Homo sapiens: one gene and its partner. The protein of the gene in region 2 interacts with the protein of the main gene of each other region in a biochemical or structural test. Each region holds a gene or a part of one and is shown on either strand. Other genes may lie near its edges.

Region 1 (7,034 bases), on a different chromosome or scaffold from region 2:
GCCTACCATAGTGCTGGGATTACAGGCATGAGCCACAGCGCCTGGCCTAGCTCATCTCTTTTTAGCACTGAGCAATATCCCATTGTCTGGATGTGCCCCCGTTTATTTATCCATCACTTACTGAAAGGACACCTTGGTTGTTTCCAAGTTTGGACAATTATGAATAAAGCTGCTATAAGCATCTATGTACAGATTTGTGTGGACATAGGTTTTCAACTCATTTGGGTAAATACCTGCCCTTCCCTCTCACCTGGTGGCTCTTCCCATTTTGGGGGGCTCTAATTATTTATAACCTCCTCCAGGAAGTCTTCCCTAATCCCTCCCTGCAACTTGGCACAGGCGCCCCCTCTATAGCAGCCCCCTGTGCTTCCCCCAGCACACATGGATTATGCTATTGTTTTCTCTGGTTTTCTTGCTGGTTTTGAGCTCTTCGAGGCAGAGACCAGATCTTAGCACACAGCAGATGTACAATGCATCCTCGTAGGATGAATGGGGGATGCCAGGCTTTCAAGAGCAAGGCTGTCATCTGTGGTGGGCGCTACCTGGATACAGGGAGACCTGAGATTTCCAGATCTGGTGATAACAAAGCCTTCTCTCCAACTATCCACGCTCCCTGGCCTTGAAGGCCAACTGCTCCTGAGAGAAAACCTCCCAGCCTTTGTGTTCTGGACACTCACGGTCTCTGGCACATGCTTATCTTGTCTTTCTGCTCAGAATGCAAGTTCCTGGTGTGCAGAGTCAACATTTTACCCTTTCCCTGTATCCCGTAGTGCCTCACATGGCGTCATGCACAAGACTGCATTCTGCTGTGATTTCAGGCCTGGGGCTGTGCCCCAGCTCTGCCTCTTAGTAGGCAGGCAATCTTGAGCTAGTTATATTACTTCTCTGAGCCTCAGTTTCCTCATCTGTAACATGAGGTTATAATAATGCAATCCATAGAGTCATTCTGAGAATTAAATGTAAGAATATGTGTAAAGCTACTTAGTACAATGACTGCACATAAGTGTACAGTAAATTATAACTATTATGATTACTATTGATTCTTTAAAAAGAAAGTCTTTGAGGCTGGGCGCGGTGGCTCACGACTGTAATCCCAGCACTTTGGGAGGCTAAGGCGGGTGGATCACTTGAGGCCAGGAGTTCGAGACCAGCCTGGCCAACATGGTGAAACCCTGTCTCTACTAAAAATACAAAAAATTAGCCAGGCATGGTGGTGCACCCCTATAGTCCCAGCTACTCGGGAGGCTGAGCCACAAGAATCACTTGAACCCGGGAGGCGGAGGTTGCAGTGAGCCGAGATTACGCCACTGCACTCCAGCCTGGGCGACAGAGCAAGACCCTGTCTTAAAATAAATAAATAAATAAATAAATAAATAACCTTTCACTGAGCACTAGCTGTGTTATGCAAGAAATGCAGTGATTAAGAAAATAGGGTTCTTCTTTCAAAGTTCAGAGTCAACTGGGAAGACAACTCTAACCAGCAGTTAGGGGACAGTGTGAAGAACAGGTGAGCCTGACGTGCTGTGAAAACCCAGAAAAGAGGAAGTTCAGTTTGAGGAACCAGGGAAGGGTGCTAGAAGAAGGAGTCCCACTGTCGAGTCATGAAGAATGTCCCTTGGGCTAACAGAACTTAGCCCAAGTAAAAAACAGGATAGGCCAGATGCAGTGGCTCACACCTATAATCCCAGCACTTTGGGAGGCCAAGGCGGGTGGATCACCTGAGTTCAGGAGTTCCAGACCAGCCTGGCCAACATAGTGAAACCCCATCTCTACTGAAAATACAAAAACTAGCTGGACGTGGTGGTAGGCGCCTGTAATCCCAGCTATTCGGGAGGCTGAGGCAGGAGAATCGCTTGAATCCAGGAGGCAGAGGTTGCAGTGAGCTGAGATCGTGCCATTGCACTCCAGCCTGGAGTACAAGAGCGAGACTTTGTCTCAAAAAAAAAAAAAAAAAGAACAGGATAAAAGCCCTCCTGGTGGCCAGGCACAGTGGCTCACGCCTGTAATCCCAGCACTTTGGGAGGCCGAGGCGGGTGGATCACTTGAGGTCAGGAGTTCAAGACTAGCCTGGTCAACATGGTGAAACCCCGTCTCAACTGAAAATACAAAAATTAGCCGGGCATGGTGGTGGGCGCCTGTAATCCCAGCTACTTGGGAAGCTGAGGCAGGAGAATCACTTGAATCTGGGAGGCGCAGTTTGCAGTGAGCCAAGATCCTGCCACCACACTCCAGCCTGGGCAACAGAGTGAGACTCTGTCTCAAACAAACAAACAAACAAACAACAACAAAAAAGCCCTCCTGGCAAAAAGATCAGTGTATTCAAGAGGGACCCTAGCAGCTTCACTGATCACAAGTATTTTGGTGGAGTGTGAATGAAGGACTGTTGAGTTGTGGCTGGGGAGGTGAGCTGTGGTCAGATCTTAGGGAGCCTGAGTGTCCAGTTGAGGAATGTAATGTTCAGAAAACACCTACCGTGGATGGATGCATGCGTGGGTAGACAGATAAATGGATAGAGAAGGATGGGTGCAGATGGACACAGGGATGGGTGAATGGATGAGTAGATGGATATAGATGAGGAAATGACTGAACAGATAGATGGATAGATCAATGCAAGTATGGGTAGAAGTATATGCAGACGAAGAGACATGAATGTGTGAATGGAAGTATAGAAGTGTGAACACATAGAGAGATCTATATGAGTAGATGAATACATAGATAGATTCATGGGTGAATGTAGAGAAGAATGAATAGATGCACGAATGGACAGATAAATGCATGGATAAATTGCTATAGGAATGATTGCTTAGAGATGGAGGAATGGATAAATAGGCATCTGGACAGATAAGGAGATAAACAGATGAAAAATGGAGAGATAGATATGGAAAGATGGACAGATAGATGAATAGGTAGATGAATGGATGGACAGATGGATGGATAGGTGGATGGATGGATGGATGGATGGATAGATATGTAGACGAATGGATGGACGGATGGATGGATGGATAAATGGATGGATGGATGATGGACAGATAGATAGATAGGTAGATGAATGGATGAATGGATAAATGGACAGATGGATGGATAGGTAGAGGATGGATGGATGGATAGATGGGTAGATAAATGGATGGATGGATGGATGGTGGACAGATGGATAGATAGGTAGATGAATGGATGGATAAATGGACAGATGAATGGAAAGGTAGAGGATGGATAGATGGATGGACAGATGCATGAATAGATGCATGGGGAAGGGATGGGAGATGGATTAGACGGGGGCATGGACGGAGGGATAAGAGGATGAAAGGGCTGGGGGTTGGAAAATTAGGGCGGATTGATGGTTGCATGATGGATACACAATTGGAGGGCTCCATGGATGGCCACTGCTGGCTTGCTTCTCTCCCACTTTCAAGCCCCACCTACCTTCAAAGTCCACTCGTCCATCCCCATTGAGGTCCACATCTCGGATAATTTCCTCTATGTCTCGGTGTCCCACCTGATGACCCAGGAGCTTCCTCATAGCCTCTCGCAGCTCACTGGTGCTTATTTCCCCATCACCATTGGTGTCAAACTAGAGAAGGCAGGAAGGAAGGAGAGGTCGCCCCAGCATGGCGATTGGCAGCAGCAGATCCCAAAGTTGAGCTCCTTCTCCAGTGTCATTGCCCCCCTTTACCAGAGACCTTTCTCTGTCCAAGCTCCCTCCCCTGATCTGGGACTTGAGGCTCAGGCTTCTTTTGAAGTATTTATACTGCAGATAGGATTCCAATAGCCGCCCCATGCCTGCCTGCCTCTGTCCGTTACCTCTCGGAAAGCATCTCGCAGTTCCTTTACACCAATCATATCTGCTGTCTCTGCCAGGAGTTTAGGCCCCATTAGCTCCACGAAGTCATCAAAATCTACATGGCCACCCACTGGAAAAGGAGGAAAGGGCTAGGTCATCCCCGACATACCCATTCCCTGTCTCCAACTAGACAACTGACAGAATGGACAACCCCTCCTTGACCTGCTCATCAGATAGAGACAAACTTAATAATAACAAGAGCCCTCTGTTCAGTTCTTCCTGTGAGCCAGTTATTGGGCTGTTTTACAGATATTCCCTAATCTACTTTCTGGGCTCCACTCCTCCAATTCGGCCCTCATTTTACAGGTGAGGAAACTGAGGCTCAGAGAGGGTAAGTGGTTGGCCCCAGATCACAGAGCTGGTAAGAGGTGGATGCAGAATTTGAAGCCAGTCCTGTCTGACTGCAGAGGACGGCAAGGGTGAGGACCGAAGGGACGCAGATGCCTGGTAGAGGGACTCACGGTTCATGTTGATCTGCTGGGACAGTTCGATGAGCTCCATCTCGGTGGGCATGTAGCCCATGGTGCGCATGCAGTTGCCCAGATCCCGGCAGTTGATGTAGCCATCCTTGTCCTTGTCGAATTCTCTGAAGGCCTCTCGGAGCTCTGGGGAAGTGAGCAAAGGTGGATGTGGTCAGGGGTAGGACCCGCAGAGCCTCTGTGGGCAAAGGCAGCCCAAAGGCCCACCGGCATGGAAAGAGAGGCCCAGGAGCTTCCCAGGATGCTGGGGCATTTCTCTTGCCTCCTGTGCACACCTTCAGCAGCTGGTTTCACAGAAGATACCCCGCGTTGCACCAGGCCCCATTTCCAGGGGCCTCTCTTCCCATCAACCTCCCTTCCCACACCTTCCTAGAGGGCTAGGCAGTCCTTTCCCCCAAGGGGCCAAGTTTTACCTTCAATTTCCTCTGGTCGCAGTGATCTATCCTGAAACAAAAGAACATGTCCTATTAGCCGCGACAAGGGACCTGGAAGTCACAAAATACCTAACCTGGGGGCCATCCACGTGGCAGCAGGCACTGGGTAGGAGGTGACGAGGATGCAGCACAGGTGTGCCTGGATCAGGTCCTTGAGGGGAGAAGAAAGCCCCACATCTCCCTTAGACATAGAAGCTCCTGGGCCCCTAACAGGAGATGCCCAAGAAGCCACCAGCCCCACCAGCCTGGGCACAGAACCTCTGTGCCTCCAGCCCCTTGTTCCAGATACAAGAATGGGTCAGCAGGAGTTTGAGGCTGTAGTGAGCTATGATGGTGCCATTGCACTCTGTCACCCTGGACAACAGAGTGAGACCCTGTCTCAAAAAAAAAAAACAAAAAAAGAATGAGTCAGAGAACAGAGCTTGCCTGGTGGCAAAAACCTGCAAATAAAACAGAGTCCAGGGAGGTCACAACAGGGAAAAGAGAGCACCACCCAATGAAACAGGAAGAGCAGGGCGACAGAGGCTGCAAGACAACAGAAGAGGCGCAGGAGGGGAGGGAAGGCAGGGCCATCCTGAAGCGAGGGTAGGAGGACAGGGAGGAGTCAGGAGGAGACGTGGCAACAGAATGGGGCTGTGACTGCTTCGCGGGCACTGCCCCACCTTCTCCAATTTGACCCCCATCCCTGTACGTTCCCCTGTCATGGGATCACAGGACACCACATAGGACCCCGGGGGCCACCAGTGCTTCTGGCTGGAGCCAGGGTCCAAAAAGCACATGTCTCCAGCCTCAAGCAGTGCCCAGGTCTCCTGGGCAATCAAGGCAACCCTGAATCTAGGCGTCAGAACAGATGGCAGAGACATCTCCAAGGAGCAGGCCTGGAGGAAGCTCAGGTTGGTGAGCTGCCAGTTGCCCTGGGCCTGCCCAGGAGGGAGATAGACTGGCATGAAATGGATACAGGTGCCCAGCTGGACCTGGTTAGTAGACTCCAAAAGTGGCCTTCAGCGTCCAGCCTCCCGCATGTTGCAGCTCTTTGCCTTTGGGCAGGGAGGACACCAGGCAGGTGTGCCCGTCCTGAAGAGGCTCACACAGGTATGGCCATACCTCCCACGAACACAGACACGCAGGCATGCCACAGTGAGCGTGTGGCACCTCCACTGTGCATGCAGGCCGTTCCAGCCAACGGGGCCAGGATGAGTAGAGACAGCCACTCCAAACTGGCCCCAGGACAAAAGACGACAACACCAGAAAATCTGCAGATCATCTAGAAAGGGAAGGGCTGCTGAGTCACATCTCATGGGACAACCAGGTGCATAGGACCAAGAGCTCAGAGGTAGCTCTGTGTGGCAGGACAGCGTTGAGAGTGTGTGTGAGCTTGGAGGGAGCAGGCTGCAAGCTCCCAGCTCCGCCAGGCTGGGGGTAGGAGTCACCCATAGGGAGGCGTGTCTCTGAGATGACTGCATGGACGTTCACCTAAAAAGCTCGCTATGGGCCAGGCACGGTGGTCCACGCCTGTAATCCTAGCACTTTACGAGGCCAAGGCGAGGGGATCACTTGAAGCCAGGAGTTCGAGACCAGCCTGGGCGATATAGTGAGACCTCGTCTCTACCAAAAAACCTTGTTTTAGTTAGCCAAGCATGGTGGTTCACGCCTGTAGTCCCAGCTACTCGGGAGGCTGAGGCAGGAGAATCACTTGAGCCTGGGAGGCAGAGATTGCAGTGATCCAAGATTGCACCACTGCACTTCCACCTGGACAAGAGAGTGAGACTCTGTCTCAAAAAAAAAAAAAAAAAAAAAAAGCTGGTGATGGTGCCTGGCTTAAGGGTAGGTCACAGCCATTCCAACACAAACCCATATGTTCGTAGATGTTTTTGGGTGACCAAAAAGGATGTTTTGTGCAATGGGTCATACCAGCAGTCTGTGAAAGCGAGTGAGTAAGCACACGTGTGTACACATACATGCAGAGCACACGCCCTAGGACCAGCTACTGAGACCCAATAAATCCTTTCCCACGCATCAGGCCTTAAGCAGCCTCCCACTTCTCCAAGGCCCAGTTCTGCAGGACTCGGGAGGAACAGGCATTGCTGACCCCATGGCAGCCCCTTCCGTTCCTCCTGTACACCCAAAGCCCCGGGGGCAGCAAAGCCAGGTGCCCCTTCACGGAGTGTGCCCGCCACCAGAGCTGGTCTGCTGAGCACTGATGGCTGGTCCTTGGATCACACACCCCATGCACAGCAGTAGCTATGTGTGTTCTCTGCCCTGGAGTAGAGCCAGGGATGCCCA
Region 2 (7,034 bases):
CATTGCTTTGTCTCAGAATGCAGGCAGGTCTGGCCCTGCAGGAAAGTCCCTGCCCAGGGTCAGCCCCAGCCAAGAGCTCCACGTGCTATCCCATGAGATCTGAGCCTGTTCCATCTTCCCTTCCTTCTCAAAGCCAGTCATCCCAGCTGATTCAGAAGGGGAGCTGGATGAGGTTCTCCAGATCCTCTTTTTCCCCATGATAAGCCAATGTCTCCTCTGGAGGAAACCATGAACTGTGCCAACGCGTCTGTCTGCCACTGTCCTCGGGTCCTCATTCTGAGGAATGATCTGGATTCAGCTTTTCATTAAAGACCAAACATCCTTGTACATTTGGAACATGAAAGATATTTAAAATATTTATATATATATAATATATATATATACTTTTATTATTCACCCGTTAACTCCATTATATGCCAATCACGAGCTAGTTTTCAGCAGTTACATTCCCTTGATCACGGCTGCATGAGGATGTAATTAACTGGAAAACACGGAGACCAGAGACACGACCGGAGGTGACGTCACGCAGCCCACGCCATCGCAATACAATTGTCAAGTTCGCTGGCGGTTTGGTAAAGCCGGTTCAGTTCTGCTCCCTTTGCCAGGGATTCTCACGTGTGTGAAAATTGGACCAACAGTGGTGGGGTTCCATTTCCTGGTTCGAATTTTCAGTGGCTTTATCCAGAATCGCACTGGTGACTGGTTATTGTAGCACCAGTCCAACCTAGGAAAGCCAACAGGGAGAGGCAGAGCTGAGTTGACAGTGGCCCAAAGACTCTCCCACACCCCCTATCCCTGAAGTTCCGAGTGGCTGGGCCCGGGTCCACCGCCTGTGCTGTGGGAGCAGACTCACACCCAGCCGGCCCCACACTCAACCTCCACACCAGGGTTCACACGTCCATCAGACCTCCCAGGGAAAACTGGCCCACGCTCCAGCTCACCCCTATGTCCCCTGTGGCACTGGGGGAGGAAGGGCTAAGAAAGTGTCATGCCAGAAGAGGGCAGCAGCTCAGGAGAGGAAACCTCCTCAGAGTTCCCCCAGCCCTACCCTCCTGGCAAACCGTGGGCAACTCAACTTCCACGGTTCCCTCACGTGGGAAGGCCTCATTGGAGATGATCTTCGTGCTACTGTGTGGCTCTGTCCCCTCTGCCATCCTCACACCAGTTGCTGAGAGGGGAACGCTGACCTGCTGGTCTGGCCAGCAGAGGGAGGGCATTTTCAAAGGTTCAACTCGAGGTAACAAGGACCCAGACTGCGGCTGTCTCCTCAACCCATGGCCCGGTTTCTGCTGGAGACATGGACACCCTGGGCCGGGCAGCCTGGACTCTGGCTATGTGTCGCCTACCTTCTCTGCCCCCATGCTGGGGCATTTCCAATTGTAAAGGTAATACTGCAGGTTGCCGTCCCCTATGCCAAACTTGAGCTTCTCCAGGAAGGTTTTGTTCTCCATGAGATCCAGTGCATTGAACACATCAAACCCTTTCTGCAAAGCAGCAGGGACAAACAAGAACAGGTGAGGACAGGTGGGGACAGCCTCCTTCCTACCCCTTTGCTGCCATTTCAAAGCTGTCCTGTGGGCAGCCACAAGAACAAGGTTCCCTCAGAAGCTCCGCTGCTTCCACGTTAATCCCCGCTCTCCGGGTGGTTCTCAGGACACTCTGAGCGCCCCCTCCAGCCTGGCCTCTGCCCAGTGTCCCTCAGAGTGTACACATATGTACTCAGTGTCCAGGCCGGGGCTCTTGCTATTCCTGGTTATGCCTCCCTGAAACTCTAGTAATTTCCACAGTCCTCTCTGGAGTCCAAACCCTGAGCCCATTCCTCTGAGAAGCTGGCTCTGGTCAGCTACATGGGGTTTGTGTTGCTTCCTTACTCCATGGATGCCCCAACTCTCAGGCCCTCAGTGCACCTCATGTTGTATGACACCTGCTGTGTTGCTTGGAGACTGTGAAGATGCTTCCTAAACCTCACCAACTGGAGCAGAAGCTCTCACAGGGCAGGGACCAGATTGCCTACAGCAGGCTGGGCTGGGCTGGGCACAGGTTACCAGAACCCACAGCAAAGCACTGACAGACGGGCTCGCCATCCGCTACTGGCAGTTGGATGCTCCAATGACTCACCACGACAGACAGCAATCACCCCTTTCCCACGCTGGGAAAGCTGTGAGGAGAAGCCCTGTCCTCCCAGGGAAGGCCTGGCTATTCAGGCTCCTTGGTGGCGCCTCCTGTGAGAACGAAACTCACTGAAATGAATCAGGAGGAGTTCAATGCCTTCACTTCGGATGCTCCTTGTTCCCTCCAAGTTTTGAGTTTCTGCCTAAAAACTGCGGGAACCCTGCCTAAGCAGAACAGATGAGGAGGGCTCAGAGCCTCCAGCCCATGGGAGGCTGCGTCCCGGGAGCTGTGCTCACCATGGCTCCACTGCCTCTTCCCTGCACATCTCCAGAGACCCCCCCGTCTGCTCCTCACCATTTTGGCGAGGACAAGGGCGTCGCTCATGAGGTCTAGAAGAGGGGTCTGGGTGTGAACGTTGTAGAAAGAATAAGCAGCTTTGAGACTCTTGTGGGTTGGATGGTTCATGATGGTGGAGGGCAGCGTATAAAAGCTCAGGAAATCTGTCACCTCTCCGTTTGCGTTCTGAAGGGAAGGCAATAAAGAGGCAATGTCAAGCATGCACAGTGGCACTGCGGCCCGGGAACAAAATGTTTCTCTCACTCCACCTTCAGGCAGCTCTGCCCCTCTAGATAAATGGCTGGAAACTGCAACAGGACATGTGGGGAGGAGGAGGGACATTGGCTCAGGGCACTTGAGGACAGAGCCGTGATCGTGGGCTGAACCTGCCAGACCTCTTTCCCAGCATGGGCACCGCCAGGGACCTCTTCTTGCAGCTCACATCCCCCCAGACTGTGTCTCCTATGTCTGGTCAGCACTGGGTTAAGCTGGGACAGGCAGGGAATTGCAGGCTTTCCTGAAGGATTAAGCGGGGCTCAGTTCTCTCTATTTTGTGTTATCAAAGTGGGGCAGAGGGGGAGAAGGGCTCAAGCCAGATCCAGAGGTATCTTTTCAGCAAATTCAAGCACCAACTCCCTGTTTTTAGGGAGGACCAAACACGGATGGTCAAGGAAGTCTAAGGTGCCAACACTCGAGCCCTGGGAACCCGGCCACTCAGGGGGGTGCCTCTCTGGGAACGTGTTAGAGACCTGGAACACCACTCCCTGACTCACCTCCACCACGAAAGTGTCGATGATATTCTCCTGGGGGTAGAACCAGTGCTCCACCTCCTCCTGGCTCATGACGGGCGTAAGGTGAAATTGCTTCAAGTACCTGGTGAGGAGCTGGTGCACTACTGGAATGTCCTTTGTTTCCATTGGTCGCAGCCCAGCTGTCTTGGGAGTCTGGAGGCAAGACAGAAGAGATGGAGTGAGATGAGCTGATCACCCTGGATCTATCCATGGCAAGGACAGATCAGGCCCTCAAGAGAGAATCCCTGGTCATTCGGCGGCTCCCTGCACCCCCGTGCATATCTCCTCAGGCACAGGGCCTGCCTCTTCCGTATCTTCTGGCCCTTTCCCTCCTAGTCCAGGCAGACTCAGACTGCTACATCAATCAACCATCTACATGGCCCCAGGCTGACTCCCTAAGAAAACACAACCCTTCATGCTCCACCCTTGTTTCAAACTCCCCACCCCAGAAGACAAGAATTTCTACCCTTGGGCCAGGTTGGCCTTTCTAGCTGTACCTTCTGCCCACGCAGCCCAACAGTCCTCACAGGCTTCTCACTGAACTGTGACTGATGCCATCCCACACTCACTGCTCTTTCTCTGCTAGACTTAGAGCACTTCGCGGACAGACCCCAGGGCCCAGCCAGGGTCTGCCCACCCAGACACTATTACACCAGTACTTCCCAGAGAGACACGGCTGTGGGTTACATTCAGAAGAAAAGCAGCATACTCCCAGGATTTTATCCCCAGTCAGCGTCCCACCCGGCAGCTGCTTTTGCTAGAAAAATGCTTCAGTGGAATGAAACCATGTGATCCTGTGGAGCAAATACCGGGGCTGGTAGAACATCCCCAGAGGCTCAGATACACAAAGGTGGCCTTGGGGCAATCTGCAAACAGGGTGGTGTCACAGTTTACAGGCCTCAGTCAGTGCCTGACACAATGCTTCCCAGTGCAGGAATTGCTTTTAAAACTTCAGTTCTAGAACCTCCAGCCTCTAAAATTCCTTGCTAAATCCTCGTCTCTTTAGGGGAACGCTCAATGACCTCATTCTACATGGCAGCTCCCACAATGATACCTCAAATCCTGGACTGAAAACACAGCCATGCTGGGGTTTCCACCCAGACATGGGTGAGACATTCTTCTGCTGCTGCAGCACTCTAAGAATGCTCTCTGCCTGCCTGCCCACCGGCCTAGAACGCAAGGCAGATCTGTCATGAGAACAGAAGGGAGAAGACACATACCACAGTCCCCCAAGCCTGTGCTTTTGGCAGTGTCTAACGGTACTGCAGCAGTCTCTCAAGATGGGACACTAATGACCCCAATCACTAGGTGGATTAGCCTGATTTCAGAGTGATCAATCCTGTTTAGAGGCTGAGGAGTCCAGGCAGGCAGCCTCATGTCAGCAGGAACGCAGTGACTGTGTGCACTGATGACCAATAGGAAGAAGCACTCCGAGGAAAGAGAAGAGATTTTTTCTTTCTTTCCTTTTTTTTTTTTTTTTTTTTTTGCGACGGAGTCTTGCTCTGTCGCCAGGCTGGAGTCCAATGGTGCGATCTCGGCTCGCTGCAACCTCTGCCTCCCAGGTTCAAGCAACTCTGCTGCCTCAGCTTCCCAAGTAGCTGGGATTACAGGCACATACCACACCCAGCTAATTTTTGTGTTTTTAGTAGAGACAGGGTTTCACCATGTTGGCAGGATGGTCTCAATCTCTTGACCTCGTGATCCACCCGCCTTGTCCTGCCAAAGTGCTGGGATTACAGGCGTGAGCCACCGCCCACCTGAGAAGGGATTTTAAGAATCCCTACTGGGATGGGCACAGTGGCTCATGCCTGTAATCCCAGCACTTTGAGAGGCTGAGGTGGGTGGATCACTTGAGCCCAGGAATTCAGATGAGCCTGGGCAACATGGCAAAATCCTTTTTTTGTTGTTGTTGTTTTTTTTGAGATGGAGTCTCGCTCTGTGGGCCAGGCTGGAGTGCAATGGCGCTATCTCAGCTCACTGCAAGCTCCGCCTCCCGGGTTCACGCCATTCTCCTGCCTCAGCCTCCCGAGTAGCTGGGACTACAGGCGCCCACCACCAAGCCCGGCTAATTTTTTTTTGTATTTTTAGTAGAGACGGGGTTTCACCATGTTAGCCAGGATGGTCTCGATCTCCTGACCTCGTGATCCACTCGCCTAGGCCTCCCAAAGTGCTGGGATTACAGGTGTGAGCCACCGCGCCTGGCCTTCTTTTTTTTTTTTTTTTTTTTTTTTTTTTTTTTTTGAGACGGAGTCTTGCTCTGTTGCCTAGGTTGGAGTGCAGTGGTGCGATCTTGGCTCACTGCAAGCTCCGCCTCCCAGGTTCATGCCATTCTCCTGCCTCAGCCTCCCAAGTAGCTGGGACTACAGGTGCCCGCCACGCCACGACCAGCTAATTTTTTGTATTTTTATTAGAGACAGGGTTTCACCGTGTTGGCCAGGATGGTCTCGATCTCCTGACCTCGTGATCCGCCTGCCTTGGCCTCCCAAAGTGCTGGGATTACAGGCGTGAGCCACCACGCCCAGGCTTCTTTTATTTTGAGACGGAGTCTCGCTCTGTCGCCTAGGCTGGAGTGCAATGACGTGATCTTGGCTCACTGCAAGCTCCACCTCCCGGGTCCATGCCATTCTCCTGCCTCAGCCTCCCAAGTAGCTGGGACTACAGGCACCCACCACACCACGACTGGCTAATTTTTTATATTTTTACTAGAGACGGGGTTTCACCGTGTTAGCCAGGATGGTCTTGATCTCCTGATCTCGTGATCTGCCCACCTCAGCCTCCCAAAGTGCTGGGATTACAGGCGTGAGCCACTGCGCCTGGCAGCAAAACCCCGTTTCTATAAAAACAAAAATTGGCCGGGCATGGCGGCACACGCCTGTAGTCCCAGCTACTTGGGAGGCTGAGGTGGGAGAATCAGTTGAGTCTGGGAGGTCGAGGCTGCAGTGAGCTGTGACTGTGCCACTGCACTCCAGCCTGGGCAACAGAATGAGACCCTGTCTCAAAACAAAAAAAAAAGAATCCCTACCTGAAGCCAGCCACAGTTGGAGCATTTGTTTCTTTGGGAAACTAGGAAAACTGAGACCCAGAACAGAAAAGCAGCTCACTTTAAGGTTGCCCAGTCCTTCAGCCAAATCTGGGTGGGGAAATTGGGATTAGAAATCGGGGATCCCTCACAAGCTCAGGTCACCCTTTACCTGACCCGGCAGAGGGGCGTCACAGACCCTGTAGTGCATCTGCGCTGGGCTTTGGAACGCGCTGCCGTGTGTATGAAGGTTCACTAAGTGGATTCATCATTCTATTTATGCTTTACTTAGGCTAAAATTACAGAGAATAGGTGTTCTCTGAGCCTTTCAACAGATGGCAGAGAAGCTAGTCCAGGCACAGACTCAGAGGAACTGAGAAAGTTAAACTAAAATAAAATCCTGCTTCAGATAACAGAAATAGAAAGTCCAGGAAATCTGAAGACTATGGGCTGGTTCGCTTTTCCAGTAGGAGAAAGCTCCCTCTCCACCCAGAGCCCTTCTCTCCTGCTGACAGCCAGGCTCTCCTTGCCCTCTCTCTGCCCCCTGCCCACCACCCGGGGCAGCACTGGCCTCTGGCAGTCGGTAGAGCTTCATGGTGCGCTGCATGGTCATATTTCTGCTCAGGTGGGAGAACTTCACTTCAATCAGCTTCCGTGGGTTTAGGGACCGATGCCAATACCTGTGGGGACACAAATGTCCTGTCCTCAGGGTTCTGGCCAATCCCTATTACAAGGACAATGGCAGGGAGACCCCAGCTGGCCAGCAGGTGGCGTGA

What was found. Proteins that work in one complex are often made in the same cells at the same time.
Region 1: of the proteins of NMT1 (region 2) and CABP1, one has a biochemical effect on the other in vitro, tested with the Homo sapiens proteins (one study listed by BioGRID).

Annotation. Positions count from the first base shown.
Region 1 is NC_000012.12:120,657,605-120,664,638, reverse strand, and holds part of CABP1 (calcium-binding protein 1), read right to left. Parts: intron 4,762-7,034; coding exon 4,731-4,761; intron 4,444-4,730; coding exon 4,300-4,443; intron 3,909-4,299; coding exon 3,799-3,908; intron 3,569-3,798; coding exon 3,421-3,568; intron 1-3,420. UniProt on the Homo sapiens protein: Modulates calcium-dependent activity of inositol 1,4,5-triphosphate receptors (ITPRs). Inhibits agonist-induced intracellular calcium signaling.
Region 2 is NC_000017.11:45,099,309-45,106,342, reverse strand, and holds part of NMT1 (glycylpeptide N-tetradecanoyltransferase 1), read right to left. Parts: intron 6,939-7,034; coding exon 6,830-6,938; intron 3,393-6,829; coding exon 3,222-3,392; intron 2,635-3,221; coding exon 2,467-2,634; intron 1,485-2,466; coding exon 1,347-1,484; intron 725-1,346; coding exon 704-724; 3' UTR 1-703.